Homo sapiens: one gene and its partners. The protein of the gene in region 1 purifies or fractionates together with the protein of each later gene. This does not show direct contact. Each region holds a gene or a part of one and is shown in the gene's direction. Other genes may lie near its edges. The genes, in order: MTRF1L, HEMK1, CHI3L1 and ACAD9.

Region 1 (7,024 bases):
GCAGACAAGAGAGATAACTTGTGCAGGGGAACTCTTCTTTATAAAACCATCAGATCTTGTAAGACTTATTCACTATCATGAGAACAGCACAGGAAATATCTGCCCCCATGATTCAGTTACCTCTCACTGGGTCCCTCCCACAACAGGTGGGAATTGTGGGAGCTACAAATCAAAATGAGATTTGGGTGGGGACACAGCCAAACCATGTCACATAAGGGTTTAGGTTATTTTTTGTTTTTCTCTTCTAGAAAAATATAAGGAAACTAAAATTATCTATAATGCTCTCTTGAGGGCAGGTCTTATATATGTATTATCCCACTTCCCAGCATGGTTGTTTCTTAATAGATAAGCATACAAACTGATGCTTTGTAAGGGTTTGAACTTTCAATAGAGAGAACAATTTGTTAATAGCCAGAAATTTTCCCTTTCCTCCTCCTTTATATATGCTGCATATCATCTATAGGGTAGAGGAATGAGAAAGTATGTTTTATAAGGTAAAAATGAAAATTCAAAGATGAAACAACAATAAAGGTAAAGCCAGAGAGAGAGACAGAGGAGTACTTCGTATAAACATTCTGTATACATTAGGCAGAATCTAATAAATGTTTTTGGGTGGATACTAAAATACTAATGAAACATTTGCTTATAAGAGAATAAATTTCTACTTTTTAATTGAATTTTAGTTTTACTGGTGTAACCTTCTGTATCCCTTCTGTCTTATTAGCTAAATGCATTCGTTATTATACAGTCTAAGTTGGAAGTCTAAAAGCATATTTATTAAGGTGAATATTTCATGGAGATGAAATTATGGAAGAGTTTAGCTTCTTTATATTTTTATAGAAATTTGTACTTGTACTTTATCAGAAAAAAAATTTTATACTTACATGCTTATGAAAACTAATGTATAAAATGGTGAAATTGATTGAAAGGACATTTATTGAAAGGCATTTATTGAATGGTATTTATTGAAAGGACAAGATATACATTTTATTTTTCCCTTCAGCTATAATAACCATAAAACTATTTCCTAGAAGTCTGCTAGCAATTTAACACTAATTAAGGAAAACCTTAACTTCTGCCCTTTTTTTCCTAGATGAGAATGAAGATTTAAGGAAACTTGCAGAGAATGAAATCACTTTGTGTCAAAAAGAAATAACTCAGCTGAAGCATCAGGTATGGTATTTCTGCAAAGAATAAAGCATTTGTGCTATTCTTAGGCATTAAAGTTTATTAAAGGTTTATAAAAACAAGTGACTAGCTTGTTACTGTTTAGAATAAACTGGGTTTTTTAAATTTATTTTCTAGATTTATTGAGGTATAAATTGACCCCCAAAATTGCATATATTTAAGGTATATGATGTGATGTTTTGATATATGCATACATTTTGAAATGATTATGACTATCAATAAACTGGTTTTTAAAGAACAAACTTCACATGGTCCTGTTTTCATCATACTAAAAGTACTGTAGCGCTCTCACAGAAAGATAAATGTCACAGTGATAGTATTTTCTGGAAAGGCAGCGAAATAGTGGCATATCTTCCCTTTTTTTTTTTTTTTTTTTTTAAGAAGACTGGAGGTAGACATGGGGCAGAAGAGGTTATATGAAAGGACTTCAAAAGTTTGTGGAAAACTGGAATTAAAAGATAAAAAAATATATATATAAACTTTAATTTATTGACATAAGTGCCACCAGCTATCAAGTTCAAGACACTTTGGTAAGCAAAAAGGTGATATACCAGCATTTAATGCATCCCTAAAGAACTGAGGGTCCTGGGAATTTAACCATGTCAATGTAGTCTTTTTTATATTATTAACTAAAGAACAATGGGTACCCTTTACAAAGTTTTTAAGATCAGGAAACAAAAAAAAGGAGGAGCCAAATAAGGACTGTAACATGAGTGCCTATGGATTTCCCATTGAAGCTCTCAAAATTGCCTGTTTGATGAGAGGAATGAGCAGGAGCACTGGTGTAGGAGAGGACTCTGGTGAAGCTGTCCCTGGTATTTTGCTAAAACTCTGGCTTTCTCAAAACCCTCATAGTAAGCAGATACTGTTCTTTGGCCCCTAGAATGTCAATAAGCAAGGTGCCTTGAGAATCCCCAAAAAGACTATTGCCATGACTTTTGCCCCTAGCCAGTCTGCTTTTGCTTTGACTCGACCCCTTCCACCTCTTGGTGGCCATTGTTTTGATTGTACTTTGTCTCCAGGATCATACTGGTAAAGCCATGTTTCACTTCTGGTTATAATTCAAAGAAATGCTTTAGGATCTTGATCCAATTTGTTTAAAATTTCTATTGAAAGCTCTGCTCTTGCCTCCAGCTGATCTGCATGCAAAGGTTCTGGCACCCATCCAGTGGAAAGTTTGCTCACCTTTAATTTTTTTGTCAGAATTTTATAAGCTGAACCAGTTGAGATGTCTGTGGTTTGACTATTGTTTCTTCTGTTAATCATCAGTCTTCTTCAATTAGGGCATGAATAAGATAATTTTTTTCCTCACAAATTGATGCAGATGGTCTGCCACTGTGGACTTCTTCTTCAACATCATCTTGTCTCTACTTAAAATGAGTTATCCATTTGTAAACTGCTGATTTCTTCAGGGCATCATCCCCATAAACTTTTCATAAAGCATCAATGATTTCACCATTCTTCCACCCAAGCTTCACCAGCAATTTAATGTTTGTTCTTGCTTCAATTTAACAGAGTTCATATTGCTCTGATGGGGCTCTTTGCAAACTGATACCCTTTTTAGTACCTCAAACTAGAGCCTGTGACTTGTTATAACAAGTTAGCACGAGTTTATTTTGTTACAAAATAACTTTGAAATACAACTTCTTGAAGTCCCCTGTTAGAGTGATAGTAGACTGTGAGCTCCTCAGGGCCAGGAATACTTATTTTGCATCTCTGACACTATTTGGAATACCAGACCTAGAGTAAGCCCTCACGATTTTAAGAATTGGATTACATTGCTTTGGTTGTACATCTTTGTGAATTACAGAACATATAGAGTTAATGAAGAATAATTATATGAAATTAGAGCCACTCTTTGCTAATTCTGTAAAGCAGAGACTAAAGGTTGACAGCAATTACCGTTGGGGATAAGTGAAAGAATATGTTAGGTAAGGAAGGAGCCAGGAAAGGGGGTACTTATTTTTGAGAATCTGCTTCCCCTTTAGGCAAATGTGAAAATTACTAAAAATTAATGTTCCTATAACCTATGTTAGAGGGGGAGAATTCCACTATAAGGTGAAAAGTGTAGTATAGCTCGCATTTTACCCATTTTCTAAATTAAATTTTGTGTGAATAAGAAGGATATGTGTATTAAATGTTTCTGTTCAGTGTCTAGTAATCAACAAACAGAAGTAAAATCCATTATTTGTTCAAAATTTGAATGATAATGTTGTATTGGCATAGGCTAGAGAGATGGAAAAGTAGTAACTAGCATAGCTTCTGACCAATGTCAAGTGTGATAGCAGTGTACTCAGGTATATTCAGGTTCAATTCTAGCTCTTCCACTTAACTTTTGAGTTGGGTAATGTTGAGCCACTAGATTATTCAACCCCTGTAAAATTAGTTTCACATCTTAAGGTAGAACTGTTAATAATACTTACCCAAGATTGTTTTAAGAATTACAGTATGTACAGTGCTTAGAATGCCTGCCATATATTAAAGAACCAATAAAATGTTGGTAGCTTTTCTTATTAATTGACCTAATCTAAGAAGTGTTTGTTCTAGATCCCCTTGATTAGAAACACACTATTGTAATGGAGGGAAGACTGATCTAGGCACAAAGGTTTGTGTTCTTGTGCCTGCTTGGCCAGTAACTAACACTTTGCCCTTAAACAAGTCATTTAATCTCTGTTAAGCTCTGTTTCCTTTACATGTATAATTAAAGAATTGGACCAGATAATCTCTAAGGGCCTTTTTAGTTTCAAAATTACAAGTTTCTCTTCCATAATAAGAAATCTTAAAATAATACAAATGTAGTTTTGAGTGCTTTTGGTTTTCTGCCATACTAGGCCTTAATTTTCAAGAGGATGGATCTAGAATCTTCTTTTGCTTTCCACAACAGTATAATCTCCGAATCAGAGCAAGTACTTAGTTCTTATTAACTGAAGAGAGAACTGATACAAAGCATACAAGAACTCCAACAGACAATAAAACAAGCCTGAAATTTTAGCTGAATCTTAACAGCATTTATAATATGGTTGTAACATTAATACTTTATGGAAGTTACACATTATACAGTTCTAATTGGCAAGGTGGTTGAACAGTACTCAGCAATATTACATTATTTGCTTGGCGAAACTTAAATATTTAAAATTCCTGAATCATTTAGCTTTTTATTTTTTGATAAATTTTAAATCTTAATTATAGGAGGGGTGATATTTTTATATTTACAGATTATCTTACTTTTGGTTCCCTCAGAAGAAACAGATGAAAATGATTTGATCCTGGAAGTAACTGCAGGAGTTGGAGGTCAGGAGGCAATGTTGTTTACATCAGAGATATTTGATATGTATCAGCAATATGCTGCATTTAAAAGATGGCATTTTGAAACCCTGGAATATTTTCCAAGTGAACTAGGTCAGTAAACTATTCATTTTGTTTCAGGTAAAGTGTTTAGGAAAAGAGTTGGAAAGACCATGACTAGGCTTTAGAACTTATCTGTGAGGATGCTTATGTAGTTTTATGCTCATCATTTACCTAATAAATTTGAATGCACATACAGTAATTTTGAGATGACCTATAAAATCTAATGGAGAGTCTTTCAATAATACTAACCATCAAATTGCTAACAGTCTTTAAAAGTAGTCTTAGATGTGTTACTGATGTCAACTGATTAGCCCCATAAATGCTTTGTTTAGTACTTGTAAGCAGTAAAGATAAATATTAAAACATTGAATATTTTAATATGTTTTACAGTCTCCATGTTCATCTCCTTTTATGACTTTAAAAATATACCTCAAGATAGTAGATGTGATGGTCAATTATTTATAAATGGCAGGAATAATAAAAATAATTCTATTTCCCTGTATTTTCAAGGTGGCCTTAGACATGCATCTGCCAGCATTGGGGGTTCAGAAGCCTATAGGCACATGAAATTTGAAGGAGGTGTTCACAGAGTACAAAGAGTGCCAAAGACAGAAAAGCAAGGCCGCGTCCATACTAGCACCATGACTGTAGCAATATTACCCCAGCCTACTGAGGTAAGGCATAAGCCCCTCTCCTTGGAATCCCGGGCCTAGCACAGTGCCTTGTCCCCAGAGTTAACATTCAGAGTTTACTGAATTGAGTATCTATTTGGTCTTCCTTGTGTATTTTGAGTTGCATATTATCTCAGTCTAAAAAATATAATTTTATAATGCTAAAAAATTAAGGATTTGTAAATGATACAATGTTGCATTGTCTGTGTATTAGTATTTTCCTAATAAGTAGTTATTGTGAGATCATCTCTGTGGGTGAAATAATAACCTATTTAAATATGGACTGGTTGCCTTTATAATGACTTCTGCCTTGTGTGACTGGTTTGTGGGGTATTAACAGCAACAATCCTATTTAACAAAGGTAATTACTTAACAGAATTGCTGCTTCATAACCCAGTTACATTAAAATGAAAGTATATTGTTATACTGTTCATAATGAGTATACTTTATTCTCACAAAGCAAATTCTCAGTCTATATTTTTAAGATAACTTAGTGTAGGAGTTCTGTTTTGCCTCATTTCCCTTCTACTGAAAAGTGATAGCAGATATCTGACTTGTTTTTCAGAATGAAGTGTGAATGCTTTGAGAAGGAACTCTTAGTGGTTCCTATGCTAATTTTGGGAAAAAGTGCTATTTGGCTCTGTAATAGGTTTAATGGAGTTCCTTTCTTTAGGTCTTAGTTTCTTTAGATCTAATTTTTGTGTGAAGCATAGGTGAGAAACTAAGCAGTTAAGGGAGAGAGTAAAGTAGAATAAATGGCAAGAGCCACATCTAGAAACCTAGTCACTTATGTTTAACCATCTTGGGGTGGAAGTTTTCAGGAAAAGATGAGAGACTGAGGTCCATGTATCATCTAATTCCTCTAGCAACCATAAGAGGGAGTCAACACAGGGAGACATAGAGGTAGAAGGCCCAGAGAATGGTAGGATTCTTACTGTCAGCATTGCAGAGATGTCACAGAATGGTTCTTAGTTGTTCATGAAACAGTGCTTTTGATGGTGGCTCCTAGGACAAAGCATTACCTTGACCTCAGATCCCAGTGTGTTGAGGAATTGAGACTCATGACTTCTTGGCCACTCCCATTTCCATTTGGCTCATCTTTGCCTCCAAATATGTTTGAAATAAAACAAAACAGACCCTTCCCACAGTTCTCACGCTACCATTTTTTTTTCCTGCTGCTAGGCTCTTTAAACTCAGAAAAATTTGAAAAAACCTTAAACATTCAGTTCTAAAAGTAGGCAGAATAGTATCAAGTTCTGCTGTTTCTGTGGTAAGAAATGGATAAAGGGAAGCCAGGTTTTTGAGGACTAGAAAGGATTTGTTTTTCAAAACTGTACAGTCCTGTACTATTTCGATTCCCTACTCTTCCAAAAAGCAAAAAAGTTTTAAAATGGTATCCTTCTAGCTACTCTCTAGTCTTAAAATTAAACCTCCCAAATATATGAATTCTGTACATGTTGTATATTCATAAATGGGTCGCTCTTGCCTTTATAAAGTTGATACATGTAATCTTTTAAAATCCCAACTTTTCTTCTGTATAGATTAATCTGGTGATTAATCCGAAAGATTTGAGAATTGACACTAAGCGAGCCAGTGGAGCTGGGGGGCAGCATGTAAATACCACGGACAGTGCTGTCCGGATAGTTCATCTTCCAACAGGTGTGTACTTATTCCTTCAATATATGACACCAAAGAAATCAATTTTGGAATAATATGACTAATTTTCCACTGAAATAGATCCTCGGTTACCAGAGAAGTATATACTTCTAAGGATTGTTATTAAATATTTGATTTACTTAGAATCCTTACCTGATACT
Region 2 (7,024 bases), on another chromosome or scaffold:
CAGGAGTGGTCAGGGCTAGCCCCAGATCTCCCAGACCAAGAAGAGGAGCAGCCTGTGGGGAGACACTCATGCCCTGACATGAGTCAGTGCATCAAGAGAGGCCATCAGCCAGTGGGATTCAGCAAGCATGCCTGGCGCTGCCTGGTAGGGTGCTGCCCATGGGAGGAAGAGAAGAGGAGCTGCCACCCATTTGGGGCCCTCCTTCTCTGGGTCCTCAGATTTGCCCTTCAGCCCAGAGTGTAAGTTCCACAGGGCCCCATTCATGGAGGCCTTGCCCATGCCCTCCATGCATTTCAGATACCCCTTTCTCAGGCTGTCACCTCCCACTGCTTTGCCTTTCAGCTATGAAGACCCCGCGGCCCTGGATGGTGGGGAGGAGGGCATGGACATCATTACCCACATTCTGGCCTTGGCACCCCGGCTCCTGAAAGACTCTGGGTATGAATGGGATGGGTCTCCTAGGTCTGTCCCCAGCAGGCTCCTCTGCTCCTAATGTGTACTGGGCAGGCCCTGGCAGAGGTCAGCACAGGACCCTCACCTCGCCAGCCCAAGCAGCCCAGAAGGGCAGGCGCCAGACCTGTCCTGCTGAGCCCACCCATTTCTCCCCCATGTAGTAGTATCTTCTTAGAAGTGGACCCAAGGCACCCGGAGCTTGTCAGCAGCTGGCTTCAGAGCCGGCCTGACCTGTACCTTAATCTTGTGGCTGTGCGCAGGGACTTCTGTGGGAGGTAAGATCCTAGCCCCCTTTAGCCCTGTAGCATGCTGGTCTTTCCACTGGGGCCATCCTCAGCCCTGGCTGTCAGGAGAGTGTGCTGTTCCCACTTCCTGTTCATTCCCTGAGGCCCAGGTGGTAACCAGCCCCTGTCCCTGTCTCCTCAGGCCCCGGTTCCTGCATATCCGGAGGTCTGGGCCATAGCATGGCTGCCCTGTGGATGCCTTGTCAGTGCCGCCAGCCTGACCAGAGGGGAGGTGGATGGCACTTTCCAGAGCCCAGGTTCTTATGGCATTTCCCAGGGTTCTGTGATTTCCCCATGCTCTGCATTTCTAGGATATTTCTAGGACACCTGGATTGGCTCCATCACATCAGAGTGGCTGAGGGCAGTTGCTCTGTGTTGGTGAAATTGCTGTGGGGGTATCGGGGGATATGGCCAGTAAAGTATTGAGAGACTAACAAATGGTGACCTAATGTTTTGTCCATGACTTGCAGGTCCCCTGACCCCCTTACTCCCAGGTAGCACTGGGGCAAGGGTTTCCTTCTGCCCCAGCAGGGCTGGCCGTCAGTCCCCTGCTTGGTAGTGGTGTGGGGGTGCAGTGTGGAGGAAGGCACGTGAGTCCTCACTCCTGGCCTTGGATACCATGGGTCCTGGCATAGAGCAGCTCACTCCCAGGGATTGATTAGTCCTCCACTGCCCTGGGTGCATGCGTACACAATTCCCTGGCCAAGCCTGGCTCGAGCACAGGAAGCTCATCTGCGTTTTGGCTCAAGGATGACTGCCTGCTTTCTGGAGGGGAGGGTCTGGAGGTCTTTGCTGCACAGTTCCTGGGTCGCACATCCACGTTCATTTAACTGAAGGCTTGAGCCAGTGAGGGGTGTTTCCTTTTTATCCCCATAGCTTTTAGCTAAAACATCCCTCCCGAGTTGACCCCCTGGGGTTTCAAATAACCCATGTGTCCCTGGTTGGGGCTGGGGAGAGTGAGAAGCTGAGATACTGGGCACAGGGTTGTGGCCTCCACCCCAGCTCTGGTCTGTGCAGACTCATGGCCACCAGGAGGCCTGCAGATCCAGCCTTCCTGTCAACAGCGACAGGAAATCTCTAGGTTGGTGAGTGCTGGTGATGTGAGCCTACATCAGGGTGGGTCCTAAGAAACATGGCAAACCAGGCTGTCTCATTCCACTAGACTGCCCCCTGCCACCCTGGCACTTCCCAGGGCCTGGCAGTATGGTCTGATGGGCAGTATGGTCCAATAGGCAGCATCCTCTGCTGCAGCTGGGAGAGCTGAGTTCCAGGGCTGTGTCCTGCAGTGGGACCTTGGGCAACTCCTTTCCCTATGAGAAGCTGGCTCTTCTGAGTCCAGGGCCAACGCCAACTGGCAACCTCTTTACTCTTAGTCAAGTGGAATGTGCATGCTGGCATCTGAATGTCCATTCGCCAGGCATGGAGAGCAAGAGAAGGTATGTACTGCCTGAGGTCACATGACAGTGACCAAGTGGAGACAGTAAGTTAGATCCCTCCCTTTGGGGAGCCTATATTGCTGGAGTCATACCCAGCCTAAGTGTTGCCCTGCACTATGGCTGGAGGACACATTTGGTAGAGGTCACACTGCAGCTCCCAGTGCCCCAGTGTCCTGCCCTGTGCCCAGCCCCAGCTGCATGGACTCTGAGCTGCCCCTGGCTTCCTTTAAGGAGGCTGCTCCAGAAGGAACCTGGGTGGGGAGGGCGAAGGGGGTGCACAACCAGGGCAAGGCTCCCCACTTCCTTAGTCCCCCATGCTCACAGACCTTTGCCTGCTAAGGTCCTCACCAGTATTGCCCTTTCTGTCTTTCTCCTTGTGCCCTTTGGCTCTTGCTGTCTTCAGCAGCATCTCAGGGTAGCTGCCCTGACCTCGGAGCAGTCTGTCGCCCCCCTACACCTCAGCCAGTCCTGGCTTCCCTGATGGTCTCTCCCTCCTGGCCTCAGGCCCATTCCTGAGGAAGGGCCTTGGCGAGCTTGTGGATGTTGCACCAGAAGAGAGTGCAGTGTTGGAGAGTGACACTGTCGGGGCAGCTGGGGCCACAAGCAGGAGCCGGCCTCGGGCACAACTTTCTGCCCAGAAAAATGTGCAGCTTGACTCTGCTGAGGAAAAGGTCCAAGCCAAGAGGACTGGCAGGCGGGGCCTCAAGCCTGCAGCCACTGGCTTGATTGGGCCCTGGACGTTGAGCCCAGATGTTGGAGCCACACCAGCCTGGATTTCAATCCCAGAATCTGCCCCTCACGAGGATGTGACCTTGGGCAGATGACTTCACCTCACTCAGCCTTGGCTTCTAAGGCTGAGAAATGGGACTTAATGCTTTATTTTATAGGATGCATGTGAGGAGCCCATGGGATGTGCCTGGCTTGGCACATTGTGGCATTTTTCCTTGCCTTCCTCGGAGGGCAGACACAGGGAGGAAGGACCCAGTGCCCTCAGGCGTCCATCTGATGCATGGGACCAACATAAGGCAGGCAGGGATACAAGGCAGTCTGGAAAGAAGGGAAGGCAGGAGTTTCAGTCTTGGGCTCTTGACTCCTCACTGTTGTCTAGAGATGGAGCCAGCAGGCTGGTAGCCTGGCAGCCTACATCTCCCCTCAGCCTCTCCTCACTATGGCCCCAGTGCCTTGAGGCCCAGGCCAGGGCAGCCAGTGGCTCTAGCTCAGGGAAAGCCAGGCCCACCTGCCCTATCCCCTCCCTTGCTCCTGAGGCCAAAGCCAGAGACTCGAACAGCCTCCCCACCACCACCAGCATATGTCAAGGAGCACTTGCAGGCAGAATGGGAGGAGGACATGGAGCTGATGGAGTCCAGGCTGTGCAAGCCCCTGAGGTCTTGAGAGATGTGCCCACTGCCCGTGCAGCCTCCTTCAGCCAGAGCCCAGAGCATAGACAGGAGTGTAGGAGTCCCTGTTTGATGTACTCTGGGAGAGTAATTCTATCTCCTCTTCTGATAGTTGGGGAAACTGAGGCCTTGTCTCACAGTTGGATGCTTTTCCCAGTTGTCAGTGGGTTTCTCCATGGGTCTCATACAGCTGCCTTATTGAAATAGGCCCCGAACCCCCTAAATGCAAAAAATACTCTTTTTTGCTCCTTTACCCCCACCTGGACCCTGGGCTATTGGCTGCTCCCAATCCTTGCCCCAAACACTTAGCTGGCTCCCCATGACTTAAGTGTGTTCTCTTGTGTCCTATGGAATCCAGTTCTGAAGAGGTGGGGGAGGACAACTGTGGGAAAAGCCCTGGGGGCCCCTCCCAAGGCCCCATCAGTGCTCTGAGTAGGCTGTCATCAGAACAAAGGGCTCCACTGCTGACAAGGTTTGAGAACTGCTGGCTTGAGGTGAGAACCCCTTTAACCTCTGCGGGACAGCATGTCTTTCCCTATCCACCTTCGATTCTTTTCTCTTTTTTTTCTTCATTGGCTCCTTCTTAGTGGATTCTCTTCTCTACTGCCCTGGGCTTCAGCCTTTGTGCAGTACTCTCGATGCCCTGAACACACACCTTCCCTTTGCCCAGGCGGTGCAAACAATCCACTTCTTCAAGCTCCAACACAAATGCTGCCTCCTTTAGGATGCCTGCTCTGTGCTCTCCCTGCCTCCCCTAGCCCATACCTCTGCTGGCACCTTCTGTACCATGCCTTCAGAAACCTTCTTATCCCCCTCATCTCTGGGGCCCCCTGTGGATCTGGCATACCCAAGTTCAGTAAATGTCTATCAGTAAGCTGATGGTACATGCATTTTCTAGAATAGAGCTGGGACTTCCCATGTGGCCCACATCTGACCTGGCAGCCCATGTATTCCGGTCATTAGGGATGGGAAGCCATGAGGACCTGGCCTTCTGCCCGACCCAGGCAGCCATTCAAGTTGAGCAATGGCCACTTCGAAGACTCAAGTGCACCTGATCCCTGCGCAACAGCCACACCAGGAGAACAGGCTGTCCTTGGCGGCAGTAGGAGCAGGCGCCAGGTTTCCTGGAGCTCTTGGCTTCAGCCAGCCCCCAGCCAGAGTCCTGGCTAGGACAGTGACCTGATCTCCTCCTCATGACCTTCTGCCCTGGACAAGCCCCCTGAACTGGATTTGGGACTGTCAAAGCAACTCTACCCCTGCTCTGGTAGGCTGAACAGTGACCCCCCAAAATGGCAGTGTCTTAATCACCTAAACCTTAACATGTGACTATATTACCTTCACATAGCAAAATGGACTTTGCAGATGTGATTAAGGATCTTGAGATGGAAGGAGTATCCTGGATTTTTCAGGTAAACTGAGTATAATCACAAGGGCCTCTGTAAAGGAGGCAGGAGTGTCAGAGTGACGGAAGAAAATGTATGTAACAATGGAAGCAGAGGTCAGAGTGATGCAATTGCTGGAGGAAGAGCCATGAGCCGAGGAATGCAGACAGCCTCTTCTCCTCTGGGGCCTCAAGAAGAATGCAGTCCTGCCAATACCTTGATTTTAAGCCCTGTGAAACTGATTTCAGATTGCTGACCTCCAGAACAGTAAGATCATAAATTTGTGTTGTTTTCACATGTGTGAAAACACATGTGTGATAATTTGTTACAGCAGCCACGGGAAACGAATATAGATTGTGGTGCCCAAATTAGAGTGCTGCTGTAACACACGCCTACTGATTGAAGTGGCTTTGGAATTGCAACGTGGAAATGGGCAGAGGCTGGAAGAATTTTGAGAGTCATGATAAATTGCCTTAACCACCTCTCTTCTGATAGGTGATGTGGCCAGGGGAACTCTTCCTCAACCTTCAGACCTAAACTGCCCAGGCCCCCCCTTTTTTTACTCATATTTGGAGAGAGGTGGCCCTTTCCCAGAGTGAGAAGACTGAAAGACTGACCAGCATGGGTCCCAGAAGGGAGTGGGTGAGGAATGGGACTGGGATGTGGGGAGAAAGTGCAAGGCTGGCCTCCATGGCCCATCTCCAGAGACTGGGTCCAGAGAGGACCTCAGAGACTGGGACCAAGCCTGTTCCTGCTCTCCTGTGGAGTTATGTGACTGGCCCAGGACCCCTTGGGTGTGTGAGGATGAGCAGGGGCCCTGTACTCTCTGGGTTGCAGGTACTGCATCTGTGAAATGAGCACAGCAGCCCCTGACTTTGAGCTAATGGGCCTGGCCCCTCCATGTAAGCCATAGGCCTGAGCAGAGCTGTGTCACCATTCTGTTCCTATGGTGGAGTGGGGCTATCCCTGGGGTTCTCAACCTCCTGGTTCCTAAAACTGAATTGGCCAACTGGTGCCCTCAGCCCTGTCCCTGTCCAAGCTGGGACTAGGACCTCCCTTTCCAGGGGTACTAAAGGACTCTGGAGACACCATCCCACCCAGCCAAGGCTTGGGGCTCCTGAAGCCAGTCCTAACCCAGGAGCCACATGGAGAGCTACTGGGAGGCCAGACATGGGCCTCATGCTGGGTTTCAGAGCTGAGAAGCTGGGGGACAGAGAGCATGGACACCTGGGTTCAAGGGTCAGCTTGGCCCCAAATCACCTGGATACGCTTTGGATGAAGCCAGGAGGGCCTGTTTATACTGGAAGGGGTGGATCATGGCAAGACTTATATTCAATCCCTGATCTTTTTTCCCAGAGAGGGATGGGGCTTACTTGAAGTAACACAGCACTTGACTCCTGACTCCCAGTATGATGCTCTCATCTCCTATTGCTTCCAAAGGCCTGGGGTTAGTTAATTAAGTCAATTAGGTGGTGCTCATATGGCTGTCCATGTAGCTACTAAACCCAGGGATTCTGGCCCATAAAGCCCTCTGGGCCAGGTTTATGGGCAGGTAAGAGTCACATTAGGCCAACTGTAGCCCTGGGTGTGCAGACAGATCTGAGTCCCATCTGAAGCTCTGGTAGCTGTGGGAGGAGAGCAGGATTTCCCCCGCTTGCGGAATGAGTGGGTGCCTTCCCCTCTGAGGTAATTGGCTGTACAGCCCCCAGCCTCTGCCCCCCAGGGCCCTCCTGAGGTGTCTGGAAGGACCTTTGGGATCTTTGGCCTCATAACCAGAAATCAGAAGCTTCAAATTCTAGAGGCCCCTTTTCTTCCAAAGACTACCTCTCACACATACAGCAGTCCTGCAGGAAAATGGTCAGGAAAGGCTAATTTTACAGCTCACAAAGTGGGAAAGGCAGGGAAGCCTACCTCAGCTTCATGGAAAGCCCTGAACTGGGCTGACCTCCACCTGCCCCAGCTATGCCTAAAGGGGGAGGGTGAGACAGCTTAGAGTAGCCATGCCCCGTGGCAGGCAGGCCTGGCTAAGTGGCCCCCTTCCCAGGGGCTGGGGTCTTCCCCAAACACTCTAC
Region 3 (6,856 bases), on another chromosome or scaffold:
AAGCTGCAGTGAGCCCAGATCACGCCACTGCACTCCAGCCTGGGTGACAGAGTGAGACTCTGTCTCAAAAAGAAAAAAAATTCCCCGAAAAAAACAATTTCATCCCTGATTTTTGCTATGCTGATAAGTGAAGATGTGTTGTAAAAATGATGCTGATCTCCACCAAACGTGATAACCTTGGGTCATTTTTTTTTCCCCTTCAAATACTTGTTGCATTTTGCATTTGACGAGCCAGCCATTCTGAAATCTGACTCGCTTCCGCTTTTCACAAGCAACTGTTTTCTTCTCTAAGTGTTTCTGCCTCTGAGTCTTCGACAGCTTCTACTGTGCGCCAGCACCACCACCGAGCTGAGGATTTGGAGATGATTTGAATTCCTGCCTGGCAGAAGTCCACCCTCTGGAGGAAGAGACTACTTGTAAAAGAGAGAATTCTCCTCAAGCATTTGGTGGGGCATCAACACCACCTCTGTTTGCTCTGACACGCCATGCAAAATGAAGGAATCCTCAAAACCACTGTGCCCAAGGGGCCAGCCCAGGCTCCCAGGAGCTTGTTTTCTGAATGGTGGTAATGTCCACCCTCTGGCTCCTGATCCAGACTCATCTTGTGCCTCCCTCGAGCTCCCTCCTGCTAATTCCATGCCTCAACCACTCTTGAATTCTTCTGGTTCCTGAACATAACAACCTCTTCCTGCTCCAGGTTTTTGCACAATTTTTTTTGTGTGTAGGGGACGGTGGGCAAGGGGCAGACTAACACCTGCCCTTCCTTCGTAATACATTACTTGCTTTTCTTTGTTTAATGTCCATCTTCTTTGCCAGACTGTATGCTTCATGAGGACAGGGACTGCCTCTCTGTTCCCATTCACCTTTCTGTCTCTACTGTCTACCTCAGTGGAAGGCAACTACTCTAGTACACTTACTTAATAAACATTGGTTGAACACTATCAATGTACTGTGGGGCCTAGAAATGTTTGATTAGGGAAATTAAGTCAGGAAGCTTGTTTTGTGGTTTTATGGCACCTCCTGAGTCAGTTCTTCACAGGGTAACAAAAACTATTGAATGAGATGAAATTTTGAGAACATCAGGGTTTAAACTCATAAGAGTGTGAAGTTATGCACCATTTTGAGATCATTTGTTCATTTATTCAACGAGTACTTTACTGAGCATCTACTATGTCTCAAGCACTGGGGATAGATACAAAGGTGGATAAAATGACCCAGCCGTTGCCTTTACTGAGTTTATAGTCTAGTGAGAGAGGCAAACAAAACATCCACTGCCACACACAACATATAAAATTATAACTGAGTCAGGTGTTAAGGAGAGAGGTACAAAGTGCTCTGACAGCCCTATAGCGGGTTTTCTGTCACCTGGAGACTGCCTTTTCTGCAGACAAGGTGACTCCTGAGCTGCAATCTGAAGGATGAGGAAGAATAAAGCAGTCAAAGAAGAGCAGTGTTAGGCTGCAATTCTCCATCCGCAATTCTCCAACCGCAATTCTCCATGGGTTGCCTGCATTTCCTGCACAGCTTATGTGCAGAGGCACTGGCTTCTTTGTTCTAGGCAATCTTTTTAGTGATGTTTGTACAGCAAACAGCCTTGGAAGATAGAAATAGCGTCCCCCCTCCAGACCAAAAGGCAGATTTGTTTACTGTCCAGTAATAAAGATAATGTCTCCCTTATCTTGGGCTGGCCAAGGTGAGGAAGGCTTACTGCTCATCATGAAAGATTTGAGTTCCTTAAACTAGGGATTCCTCTGCTGTGATGTAACTCATTGCATTCATGGCATCTACCTGGGCTCCTCCAACACTGCCCTTGTGAGACCTGAGGGCTAAGGGGAACTGACCCTAACATGAAGTTCATGCTGCTTGCTGTACCATGGATAATAAAGTCCTTTGTCTCTGACCTAGGAGTCTCGTGTCTTCTGCCAACATCCACGAAACTGTAGTTATGTCATTAATTTGCAAGTAGCATAAAATCTCAGATCTTTCATCGTTATTTACAGGCAAGTGGATGTCATATATAAAGGCCCTGTGGCGGGAGTCAGTAGAGCAAATATAAGGATTTAAAAGAAGACATATAAGCATGAGTGGAATATAGGGAGGGTGGGGGTCATGGCCTGAGATAAGGCTGGGAGGTGGTGAGCCTATGAGACCCTTGGCCAATCCTGCTAACACAGGCCTGGGGGTATCTTGGCCATTTGTTGTTACAAAGCTGCCTTCAGGCAGAGCATGTGGAATTAATAAACTGAGCTTGAGGGAGCATAGGACAACAAGGCTTGGGCCAATCTAAGCCTATGAAATAATTTTTAACAAAGGGAGATAGTGAAAATAGGAGGTGTTTTCTTAACATCCTGTGCTCTGTGATGAAAAATTTTGCATCTGCATGCCACTTCATAATATCACTATTAGAAATTAGAAGTCCTCCTCTCAGTGCCCCAAATGAACCAGAAGAAGCTATCATTGACTGTCATTGCTGTCAATCATCTTGGGTACAAAAGGAGGCAGTCATCTTAAAAAGGAAAAGTGATGCCTCTTTAGTATTCACCGAGCGTGATTCTGGACAAGCCACTTTTTGTCCACCTCTCTTACAATGAAGGGAAGGCACTGGCTGAGTTTTAAAGGAAGAGAAAGGGAGAGAGGGAGAGAAGAGGGAGAGAGCAGAGAGACCTCACCGAGAGAGCTGCAAAACCAGCCTGGAAAAATTAGAGTATTACCTAACATTAGTGAAAAATAAAGGTACTTTCTTGAGAAGCCCTTGGACCCATTCTGCCTCTTGGAGTTCTGAACTTTTCACTCACTGCCTATTAATTAATGTTAAGCCTGCAAAGAATGGAGTTGTCCTGGATATTTGGCCAAAAAAAAAATGTATCCACAAACAGGGACGTAATCAGGCAGGGAGCCTCGTTAAGAAGTTTTGTTCTTGTCCTAGGAGTGATGAGAGATCACTGAAGGATTTAGAGAGGGGCTGTATCATCAGGCTTGGGTTCCAAAGCCTCACTGAGAGAGTTGGGGAGCTGACTGATGTCAGATGCTCGTGCAGCCGCCCCGTAGGGCCTGTATTTCCTCCATGGTGCCTCACTGCAGCACCGAGCTTGCAAAAGATCCTCTCTCTTTATGGGAATTTCAAAACAGAAGCAAAATAGCACCGGGGCTTAAAGCATTCTTGGGAATTTCCCTGTCTTTCCCTCTAAATAATCAGCATGTAAATTGCAAAAAAAAAAAAAAAAAAAAAAAAAAAGACACGGGCCCAAAAGGGAGCGCTCAGTTTCAGGCTCTTTGCTTTCCTTCCTCCCGAGGCTCTCTGGCCCTTACCCAGCCTGAAGACAGAAAGTGTGAGGGGGAGGGTAGGAAGGTAGGTCAAGCAGGGCAATGCTGAGCCTGGGAAGAAAACAACAGCCTTGTTTAGGGCACTGTGGCTTACGTAACTAAATTGTGCCCAGTTTCCACCTGGCCAGGGGCCTGGAGTGAATGCTGAAGATGCAAAGGTAGAGGCTGCCAGAAAAGCCAGGAAATTGCTGGCAAGAAAGGCCAGTGGTGGGGTGCAGGAGTGGGAGGAAGGCTGGGAAATGCGGCTGAGTCACATCTCCAGAAGCCCCCCATCATCACCCTAGTGGCTCTTCTGCTGGCAGGTGCCTCATGAAGACCTGACCCAAAGTTTTCAAAACTCTGCGGTTTCTCAACCCTCCTCTGGTAATCCATAGTACTCCCCCGCCTCCACTTGCCAGCCTCGTGATTCCTTCATTGACACATAGCTCAGTTCCCATAAAAGGGCTGGTTTGCCGCGTCGGGGAGTGGAGTGGGACAGGTATATAAAGGAAGTACAGGGCCTGGGGAAGAGGCCCTGTCTAGGTAGCTGGCACCAGGAGCCGTGGGCAAGGGAAGAGGCCACACCCTGCCCTGCTCTGCTGCAGCCAGAATGGGTGTGAAGGCGTCTCAAACAGGTATCTGGGCTAGCCAAGGTTAATCCATCAGAGTTGTGGGTTTTCAGGCCCAGACAGCCCGCAGAGCCATCTGCCTGCTGGGTGAGGGACTAAGGGAGTGGGCAGAGGGGGAGGAGAAGCAGAGCCAGGGGAGGGACTGAGGCTGCAACCAGGAGGTGGGGGTGGGGGAGGTGGGTCTCAGTTGCTTGGGGGAGGGAGCAGGGCGGAAGGGCAGGATGCACTTGCAGGGGTCTCATCCTGGATTTCTCTTCAGGCTTTGTGGTCCTGGTGCTGCTCCAGTGCTGTGAGTAATCCCTCCACCTCCACTTTTAAGTCCAGAGGCGTGGCGAGGGCACAGGGCAGGTGTGGAGGAGGTCTTAGCTCCAAGGGAACACTTTGCCAGGTTCTTCTGTGCTTCCAATGACTTCGAAATAGTCACGTTTGCTAAACTGGAGTGAGGAGTATATGGATGTTTATTTTGCTATACTCTTTGGTATATGTGAAAATTCTCAAAATAAGAAACTTTAAAAGGTCCTGGTTCAGTGAAGGCTTTGACTAACAGCCCCTGGGAGCCGCTAGTACAGTTGCCCAGTAGCTGCTTGGATGAGTGATGCCCACATTGTTTGCAGCAGGAGAAACAGAATTAGAGGCGAGGAAGGATTTCCTGGTCCATTGTGATATTGTGCCCCAGCCTGGGGGACATGCCGAGGGAGCACAGGACTGCCATTCCGGGTGGGTTACAAGTTAGAGGCACTCTCACCAGGAGGCAGAGAAAGGTGGGCCAGAGTCCCTCATGGATGAAGGACCTCACTGCAGGTCACTAAAGGTGCCAGCCTGAAAGCCAGGGCCATCTGTGACACAGGCTATCTTGGGCCTTCCCCTCCCACAAAGCCACTGCTTCCAGGAAGCCTGCTGTGCTGGCACCAAGTCCCATTTCATCCTTATTCCCCAGCTCCTACCCTTCCCCCACACAGTGCCTGTAGCGTATTCATCCCCTGCATTGGATCTTTTCTAAGCATTTTCAGAATAGGCCTTATTTTCACCAGTCAGGGAACTCCCCAGAGGCAGGGGGACCTGAACCAGCTCCTTTCATTTAAGAATTCTGACTTTGCTCACAATCTGCACCCCACTCCTCCCTACCCAACCCCACACCCCATTGGTGCTCAGCTCTGGGCTCAGCCTGAGGTCTCTTGCCGAATCCTGGCCCGGGCCCCATCCCAGACTTCTCCTTCAGGCTCTGCATACAAACTGGTCTGCTACTACACCAGCTGGTCCCAGTACCGGGAAGGCGATGGGAGCTGCTTCCCAGATGCCCTTGACCGCTTCCTCTGTACCCACATCATCTACAGCTTTGCCAATATAAGCAACGATCACATCGACACCTGGGAGTGGAATGATGTGACGCTCTACGGCATGCTCAACACACTCAAGAACAGGTTGGGCCAGGGCTGGCCAGGAGAGGAGGGACCAGCTGGGCTGGTCCCAGGGCAGGGCAACCCCACCCAGGAGGAAGGGCGAGGCCCCACCCTGCTCACCTATGTTTGGAGAGTTAGAGGGGCTTGGCTTAAATGGGTGGAGGGGATGACTGTAGGTGCTGGGCAATATTTGGGGTGATGAGAGACTGTAGACGGAAGCGCAGCTGAGCCCCTCTGGGAGAGGGGAACCCTCTCCTGCCCCTAACGTGCTCTCCAGGGAGCATGGAAAATGAGCAAGACTCTACTTTGCCATACTCTGTCTTCTCCACTGGGGAAAACAAAAATGGGCAGCAGACCTCAGAGTAACTCCCATGAAGCCTGTGACCCCTCAGAGATCCACCACTATGAATCTCTATGGGATTCCCATGATGTCCTATGGGAGGACATCAGCGGCCTAACCCAGCCTCTCACCCAAAGCAGGAAACCTTCTATGGCCTCTCAGACATGGGGCCACCCAGTGTCATGACAATGTCATTCCACTCCTGCCCTCCCCACCTCCCTGTGCTCCACAGGAACCCCAACCTGAAGACTCTCTTGTCTGTCGGAGGATGGAACTTTGGGTCTCAAAGGTAGGAGCCTCTCCCCAGGGGCAGGACGGCAGAGGATGATGGCATAGGAGTGAGGAGCTTGGGTCTCCCGCATCCACTGTATGGATGTTCCAGGGGCTCCAGACTAGATAGGTACAAGGCCTACCTGTTTGTCAAGGGCCTGCCTGATGTGTAGCAAAGAAAGCAGAGCCCAGAGAGAGAGCAGGACTTGCCAAGAGTCACACAGCAAGTTAACAGTGGATCTCCCAATTCCCTGCCAATGCTCTATTTACTACCTCACAGGCCCGAAAATATGGGACTTCTGGGGCTACCACCATTAGGGCTGGAAAGAGAGAGATGGAAACCAATGGGGACATTGAGAAGTGGGGAGACCCTGGGAGGAGTCTTTGGATTAGGTGGGGTTGGAGCAGGGCTTGAAATGGGGGTGGTTATGGCCATCGTTGGCACCCATGTGCTGGGTACTCTTTCTGTGTCCAGCACCCTGTCTCCCCATGATCCCATGTTGTCCTCACAACAGCAAGGTGAGCTGTTATATTTGTCCCCATTTTACAGATGATGAAACTGAGACTCAGGTTATAACCTTTCACAGTGGCTGGCTAGTAAGTGATAGAGCCAGACTTGGAAACCTGGAATGCCTGGCTCTAAGGCACATGCATGCCTGGAGGCGACCCCTGTCCCAATCATGCCCTCCCAGAGCTGTGTGGCCTCAGGATCCCAGCTCTGCAGGTCCTGGAAACCCCACCAGAGGCCCAAGGCACCTAGCATATCAGTGCTGAGCATGCTACAGGGCTGATTTTGGTCCTAGATTTTCCAAGATAGCCTCCAACACCCAGAGTCGCCGGACTTTCATCAAGTCAGTACCGCCATTTCTGCGCACCCATGGCTTTGATGGGCTGGACCTTGCCTGGCTCTACCC
Region 4 (7,024 bases), on another chromosome or scaffold:
CCAGCCTGAGTATTCAAGCCAGGCGGCCCCACCTGCTTTGGTCACTGCACGGGGTGTGAGCCTGCACCACCTCTGTCTGGGGCCTCTGTGCCTGGCTTTGTGCGAGGCGCCCTCCCCCTTCCACCTGGTTGCATCTTCACAGCGACTCTGAGGTGGGGGTGGTGTTCAGGGAGGTGTCGCACTCGGCCTGAGGCACAGCCTGTAAGAACCATTGCCAGGATTCAAGTCTGTATCTGATGCCAAACTCTGTGTGTGGGTGCCATGAGGAGGGGTGGTTCTCCTCTGACCCACGGGTGCTGGCAAGTGGGGGTGCCAGCTTCTGGGGTATTTGACCTCAGCAGACACGCTTCTCACAGTGCCCACCTGTGGGAAGGGTAAGGATGATGGCCATAGGAAATCATGTTTGAACCACAGAAATATTCCAGTTCATTCTAATAACTCTGCTCTTCCTCAGAAATGACTGCTGAGTACGCCTGCACAAGGAAACAGTTTAACAAGAGGCTCAGTGAATTTGGATTGATTCAGGTACCAATGGTTGAGTACTGTATTTGTGCATTTCACTGTGTGACATGAACGGTGTGTTCTTTTGATGTCTCTGTACTGGTGACTTCTGTGGTGATTTGGGAAGAAGACTAGTTAAGGCTTTATTTGACACGGGTCACTGGGCTTGCTTCTCTTGGGCATTGAGGCTTCTGACTTAATTACTTTCTCTCCTGTTTCACAGATTTGGCTCTCAGCACATGCAAATTGTTTCTTGTGTTTTTTCTGAACACTCCAGGAGAAATTTGCACTGATGGCTCAGAAGGCTTACGTCATGGAGAGTATGACCTACCTCACAGCAGGGATGCTGGACCAACCTGGCTTTCCCGACTGCTCCATCGAGGCAGCCATGGTGAAGGTAACCCTGGCATAGCCAGAGAGCTGGCGCTGGAGGGAGGCTTGGGAAATCTCCCTCACTGTGACCTTTCAAGCCCATGCTGTTGCCTGTCATCTTCCTCCTGTCATTGATCCAGTATTTATGATGCACTTGCCCTGTGTAGCACTCCAGGGATAGGCAGGCAGCGGGGAGCAGCAGTAGGGAAGTGTCCAGTGGGCCAGTGGATCAGTAGTTTATAGCAGAAGGAGACCGTTATGATAATATCCTTTTAGAGTAATAACATTGCATCTGGCTTGTGTGAGAAAGACTTCTTTTTTCCTTAGTTTATGGCCTTCCTACTTTCTGGTATCAAAACTTTATCTTAAAAACTAAGCATATGGCAGGGCGCGGTGGCTCACACCTGTAATCCCAGCACTTTGGGGGGCCGAGGTGGATGGATCACCTGAGGTCTGGAGTTCGAGACCAGCCTGGCCAACATGGTAAAACCCCATCTCTACTAAAAACACAAAAAATTAGCCGGGCATAGTGGCGGGCACCTGTAACCCCAGCTACTTGGGAAGCTGAGGCAAGAGAATCACTTGAACCCGGTGGGGGCGGAGGTTGCAGTGAGCCGAGGTTGTGCCATTGCACACCAGCCTAGGCAACAAGAGCAAAACTCCATCTCAAAAAAAAACAAAAAACAAAAAACATGTATGAGCCTGGGCAACATGGCGAAACCCCATCTCTACAAAAAATACAAAAATTAGCTGGCATGGTGGCACACGCCTATAGTCCCTGCTACCTGGGAGGCTGAGGTGGGAAGAGCATCTTATTTGGTTAAGGTAGATACTAGAATTTGCTTTTGTTTTGTTGAGGGTGGAGGGTGTCATTTTTTAGCTGTAATAAAAAAGATGGCCACACTTGGGGGGACCCTACTTTGTGCCCCCCACAATTGTTTTTAAGCTGGTCTCTGGAATTGAGCTCTTGAGAGAAATAGTGAGAGGTATGGCAGCTTACAGAAGCAAACATCCTGGTGTCGGCAGGAGAGTCTACCTAAAAGGTTGGGATCCTGAAGTGGCAAGGTCCCTAAAAAAATAAAAAATTAAAAACAAAAAGGCTGGGCATCTTGGACCGTGTTTGAGTCTTTTCTAGGTGCAGTCTGTGTACTGGGTGCATTTGCATGTGTTTTATCATCTCGTTTTCTTGTCACCCTTGAACAGTGACCACAGACATTAGTTTGCTGTAGGCCAGCCTCTTCCAGATGCTAAGCCTAGGGCTAAACATGGCAGTATGTTTGCCCCCAAGGCACTTATAGTGTGCACAGACAGAAAGAAATCACGGCCGCTGGGGCTTGGCAGGAACAGGTCAGGTTTTCTCGGGAAGGGGAGATCTTAGGTGGGTTTTAAAGGAACAGGAGCTCAGCCAGGTGCAGATAGGGTGAAGGCAGGCCCAGAGGTACAGAAGGTCATGGTGGGGTAGGGAACACAAGCTGGCCAGTGTGGTCACGGAAGGCAAAGGACTTGACCACATCACCCCTCAAGTTCCTCCCTGGCCGATCTCCTCCCCAAGCCCGTGTGCCTCCCATGCCTCCCCAGCCACCCAGCTCCCTGCAGCGTAGGTCCTCCTTTTGGAAAGGATTCAGTGTGACACCCCACAGGTGTTCAGCTCCGAGGCCGCCTGGCAGTGTGTGAGTGAGGCGCTGCAGATCCTCGGGGGCTTGGGCTACACAAGGGACTATCCGTACGAGCGCATACTGCGTGACACCCGCATCCTCCTCATCTTCGAGGTGAGTGGCCCCGCCACCAGCTAAGCTGTGCTCCACCCCCACCCTGCCTGGTCCTAAAGATGCTGCTCAGGGCCTCGCAGAGGCCCCCGCAGCCCAGGGCTGGGTCGCATGCTCTCAGGGGCTCTCCTAGCCCTGGCACGTCTCCTTCCCGACTGCTGCCCTCCATGAAGTCACAAGCCTGAGGAGTCAGTTCAGTTAGCATGTGCCAGGTGGCAGGGGAGGGAACTGGGGCCACAGAGATGACTTCGGATGCTGTGTTCTGATTGTGCAGCAGGGCCGACCAAGGGAGATGACAGAGTGTAAAGAGGCAGGGAGCGGGCATCCTCCAGAGGCAGCCAGAGTTTTGTGAAGCATGCGCTCCTGGCCCCTAGGGGCAGAAAGAAAGGGCTTCAACCAGGGCCGGGTGGAGGGCAGTTTGTCCCTAAGGGCAGGGTAATAGAGCGCGCCAGGCCCAGATGGGACTGATCTGCTGGCACAAGGTGAATGAAGAGAGAGTGAAGGGCTTTCTGGGAGCAGCAGTCAGCCCTGCTAGGTGGGCTGGGGCAGGCAGTGGGTTTGGGGGTGTTGAAGAAGGTATATGGGAAGGCTAAAAAAGTAGCCAGACTGTGGAGGACCTTGATTGACAGCAGAGGAATTTGGAAGCCACAAAACGTCTTTAAGCAGGGCATTATTTGGTTGTATCTGTGTTGTGGGAAATGCCCCCAGGGGCTCAGCAAGTGCTGGACATGTGGACGGGGCTCATGTGGAGAGTGAGTTGCAGGGATGAGGCCGGAGACCAGGGGCTCTCCTGCTGGGAGGGAGGGGCTGGACCTAAGAGAGCACAGCAGGATGAGTGGGATATGATGGTGGGCATGGGTATACAGGAGGCAGGCCTGAGACAGGGAGAGGGTTTGGGCCTGAGCAGCAGGTCTGGTGATGAGAGGCATCATCAGCCTCTGGGAGTGTAGTCTTGTCTCCTGGGCCGTCCTGCCCAGTGGGAGGCCTCCTTGGCTGCTTTTGTTCCTGGCCTACCCATTGGGTTCCAGCCATCTCCACTGTTGCAGTGGACATACGGGGCAAGGGCCAGCCTGAGGGCACTGGAGTGGTCTCAGCCCTGCAAAGGGTCTTCTCCAAAGGCCCTTCCCTTAGCCTGGGAGGGTTGGGGTTCTCCAGGGCTGGGGTGGTCAGCAGGGTTCAGGAAGCCCTCAAGGCCTTGGAAGAACACAGGGCTCTCGATGTAGGGTGAGAGCTCCTGTCTGGAGCCTGCTCGGAGCTGGGTGGTCCTGCCAGGAGGCCCCTGCAGTCCCCCCTTTTCCTGTAGGGAGTCCTGCTGTCCGTGATGTCAGCCTGACTGCAGGGGACAGTCCTCAGTCCCTAGTGCTGGCTGTGTAGCCTGGGTCAGGCCCCTGCACCTGACACACAGTACCATTGTGCAGAGTGGGCAGAAGCCCACTGGCCTCTCACTGATCAGAATCATGGGTTGGGGGAGTGGGGAGCATGTGGCCCTCTGGGTGTGTTGACACCTGGCACTGAGGAGGTTCTAGCTGCCACTCAGCAATTTCTGGCTTCCGTGAGGAATCTGGCCTCCACCTGGAGCCAGCAATGTCTGTCTGGCACTGGCTGAGCCCCAGGCATCAGCACCCCTCACCACCCGGGGAAAGCTGGTTTCCATTTTACAGAGGACCTGGAGACTTGGAGAAAGGCTTGACACACGTGAGGCTGGTCACGGAGAGGTGGGGGGGTCCCAGTGGGAGCTCATGGCCATCTGGTCACCTCCCTCCTCATCCCTGTGCACTCCCTGAGCCCTGGCCAGAGCCCTGCTCCCAGCTACTTCAGGAGCAGTGGCTTTTGTGGCAATGGGCAAGCAGGCAGTGGCCGGCTCTACCCAGCACACGTGGCACTACCATGGCTGCCTGGCCGGGGGGCAGCCTTTGACCTCTACACTACTGACCACAGGGAACCAATGAGATTCTCCGGATGTACATCGCCCTGACGGGTCTGCAGCATGCCGGCCGCATCCTGACTACCAGGATCCAGTAGGTGCCATTGTCACCGTGTGCTTCTCAGGTCCCATACCTGCCCAGCAGGGGCCAGTCCAGGGCAGTGGGAGGAAAGAGCTGCCTTGACCTGGAGTGGGGGCATGGGGGTGTGGCGCAGCCTTGTGGAGGGGACCTTCCCCTGTGGTAGTGGGGGGCTTGCTGCCCAGGGAAGCCCTCGCTGCCCTGCCCTTATGGCCACAGCACCCTACAGCTTCAGCATAAATACCGTATCCCCCATCTGGTCCCTCACACTAGAGGCAGCTGGTTTTTCAGAACCTGAAGAATGAGAGGTGTCCCTTTAAAGGTGCCAGGCCTCACAGCCAACATAAGCCAGTGTTTCTCTTCTCTGCCCTTCTTCCCCTCATGCTCCCCTCCACCCCCACCCTAGGGGCACAGTAATCCAAAATCACTGCTGGAGGCCAAGTACAGGTTGCTAGTAGCATTTTGTCTCCTTCACAGGAGACAGCTGCTGGGAAGCTGGCTGTGACTCCACCCCTCATGGGGGAGCATATGTGTGGCTCCCCTGAGGAGACTGGCTGCTCTCTGGCAGGTGGTGGGTTTGGGGGGGTTCAGGCTGTAGCCAGGGGCCCAGCATACCCAGGCCAGAGGGGGGCACGGAGCTTCTGGGTGCCGAATGGGCCATGTTGCTGGACAGTGAGCGCCAGCAGCGAGGCCTCCAGTCACAGGACCATGGACTTTCTGCAGTGAGCTTAAACAGGCCAAAGTGAGCACAGTCATGGATACCGTTGGCCGGAGGCTTCGGGACTCCCTGGGCCGAACTGTGGACCTGGGGCTGACAGGCAACCATGGAGTTGTGCACCCCAGTCTTGCGGTGAGTGGGCCTAACAGGCATACCCCCTATTTCAATGCCCTCCTGCCAGATCTCCTTGTGGCAGAAAAGATCTCACTGTGGGGGGTCTGGGCTTCTCCAGGGGAAGTTGGGGAACACCAGCTAGTCCATGACACCCTGGATTGCTTCCCCCAGATGGGGCATCTCTGCCTGGTACCCGGGCTGTGAGACAGGACAGGGCACTGTAGGGATGAGGTGCTGAACTGAGTCCTGTCTTGGTTAATAGGACAGTGCCAACAAGTTTGAGGAGAACACCTACTGCTTCGGCCGGACCGTGGAGACACTGCTGCTCCGCTTTGGCAAGGTAACCAGGCCCTCCCAGGCCTGGGTCGCAAGCGGTCCTCCAATTTGGCCAGCATTCATGAGACTACTTTTTGTCAAGCATCCTTTGGGACCAGGCCTAGAACAGAAATGTTGATCACCCTGGAGGGATGGGGTGGTGAGGTCAGGCTGACTTTGTCAGCCTGGGGCCCACTTAGCTACTCGGATGGGTACCCTTGCTGGGTGAGTTTTCTGCAGTGTTTTTCTGTGCACCTTTCAGGTAGAGAGGCTCCCTAGAATCGGGAGGGCAGCTCCACCTGGGGCCTGAATCTAGGGACCTGATTGGTGGGGCCCTTGCTGCTGAAGGTGGCAGTAGCACAGTAAGCACTGGCTTCTGGTCTCAGCCAAGCTTCTGGGACCTGGTCTTGCCTTAACCCCTCCCTGAATCTAGAGCTCAAAGAGAAGGGAAAACAGAAGGTGGCTGGGAGCCGTTCTCCCACAACCTGAAGAGAAAGGTGTTATTGACTCCACTTTCTCAAGGAACACAGGAGACTAAGACAGGCAAAGATGCAGCCCAGGGAGGGACCATGTGGGGGACTGGTCTAGGTAGTGAGTCCCCACTTGGAGCCTCTGTGATCCCAGACCATCATGGAGGAGCAGCTGGTACTGAAGCGGGTGGCCAACATCCTCATCAACCTGTATGGCATGACGGCCGTGCTGTCGCGGGCCAGCCGCTCCATCCGCATTGGGCTCCGCAACCACGACCACGAGGTGAGCCCAGCCCAGCCTCACACAGGGCCTGGCTGCTGCCATCTGTCCTGCTGCACTTTAATGAAGTTGATTGTTGAGGAGGGTGTGGTCGGGTGTGGGGGAGGCTGTGCAGGTTCACCATGCGGTGGCCGTGGGAGGGTCTGTGCTGCTCAGGAGATGGGGCTGTTCCCTTTCTTCTTCCTGACTGAGAGAAGAGGGGGTGAGTGACAGGGGTTCCTGATCCCAGTGCCCCTACCCCCAGCAAGGGACAGACCCTGCACATTGCCCGCTGTGCTGGAGGGAGGCGGGTGCAGTCTCTGAGGACCCACTGTATACCAGGATCTCTGCCTGCACTTTCCAGAGCACCTGCAGATACCAGGATTGTGACATCTGCCTTTCAGAGGAAACAGGGTCAGAGATGTTGAGTCACTTGCTGTTGGGGAAAGGCTGTTGGATCAGGGCTGGAATTAGAACCCAAGACGGGGTGACTCCTGTGCCAGGCC

What was found.
Region 2: the proteins of MTRF1L (region 1) and HEMK1 purify together in Homo sapiens (affinity purification with mass spectrometry; 3 studies listed by BioGRID and IntAct, with this or other methods). This does not show direct contact.
Region 3: the proteins of MTRF1L (region 1) and CHI3L1 purify together in Homo sapiens (affinity purification with mass spectrometry; 3 studies listed by BioGRID and IntAct, with this or other methods). This does not show direct contact.
Region 4: the proteins of MTRF1L (region 1) and ACAD9 purify together in Homo sapiens (affinity purification with mass spectrometry; 2 studies listed by BioGRID and IntAct, with this or other methods). This does not show direct contact.

The regions. Positions count from the first base shown.
Region 1 is NC_000006.12:152,992,699-152,999,722, reverse strand, and holds part of MTRF1L (peptide chain release factor 1-like, mitochondrial), read left to right. Parts: intron 1-1,087; exon of another isoform or gene 1,088-1,093; coding exon 1,094-1,173; coding exon of another isoform or gene 1,174-1,197; exon of another isoform or gene 1,198-1,430; intron 1,431-1,569; exon of another isoform or gene 1,570-1,718; intron 1,719-4,403; coding exon 4,404-4,587; intron 4,588-5,046; coding exon 5,047-5,210; intron 5,211-6,748; coding exon 6,749-6,866; intron 6,867-7,024. UniProt on the Homo sapiens protein: Mitochondrial peptide chain release factor that directs the termination of translation in response to the peptide chain termination codons UAA and UAG.
Region 2 is NC_000003.12:50,579,502-50,586,525, forward strand, and holds part of HEMK1 (MTRF1L release factor glutamine methyltransferase), read left to right. Parts: intron 1-342; coding exon 343-438; intron 439-614; coding exon 615-728; intron 729-879; coding exon 880-916; 3' UTR 917-2,110; coding exon of another isoform or gene 2,111-2,198; 3' UTR 2,199-2,576; coding exon of another isoform or gene 2,577-2,592; 3' UTR 2,593-4,533; coding exon of another isoform or gene 4,534-4,549; 3' UTR 4,550-7,024. UniProt on the Homo sapiens protein: N5-glutamine methyltransferase responsible for the methylation of the glutamine residue in the universally conserved GGQ motif of the mitochondrial translation release factors MTRF1, MTRF1L, MRPL58/ICT1 and MTRFR.
Region 3 is NC_000001.11:203,183,681-203,190,536, reverse strand, and holds the start of CHI3L1 (chitinase-3-like protein 1 precursor), read left to right. Parts: upstream 1-3,832; 5' UTR 3,833-3,913; coding exon 3,914-3,938; intron 3,939-4,191; coding exon 4,192-4,221; intron 4,222-5,151; coding exon 5,152-5,353; intron 5,354-5,904; coding exon 5,905-5,961; intron 5,962-6,727; coding exon of another isoform or gene 6,728-6,745; coding exon 6,746-6,856. UniProt on the Homo sapiens protein: Carbohydrate-binding lectin with a preference for chitin. Has no chitinase activity. May play a role in tissue remodeling and in the capacity of cells to respond to and cope with changes in their environment.
Region 4 is NC_000003.12:128,903,608-128,910,631, forward strand, and holds part of ACAD9 (complex I assembly factor ACAD9, mitochondrial), read left to right. Parts: intron 1-454; coding exon 455-525; intron 526-778; coding exon 779-898; intron 899-2,513; coding exon 2,514-2,642; intron 2,643-4,577; coding exon 4,578-4,657; intron 4,658-5,365; coding exon 5,366-5,492; intron 5,493-5,736; coding exon 5,737-5,814; intron 5,815-6,265; exon of another isoform or gene 6,266-6,413; coding exon 6,414-6,542; exon of another isoform or gene 6,543-6,656; coding exon of another isoform or gene 6,657-6,726; intron 6,727-7,024. UniProt on the Homo sapiens protein: As part of the MCIA complex, primarily participates in the assembly of the mitochondrial complex I and therefore plays a role in oxidative phosphorylation.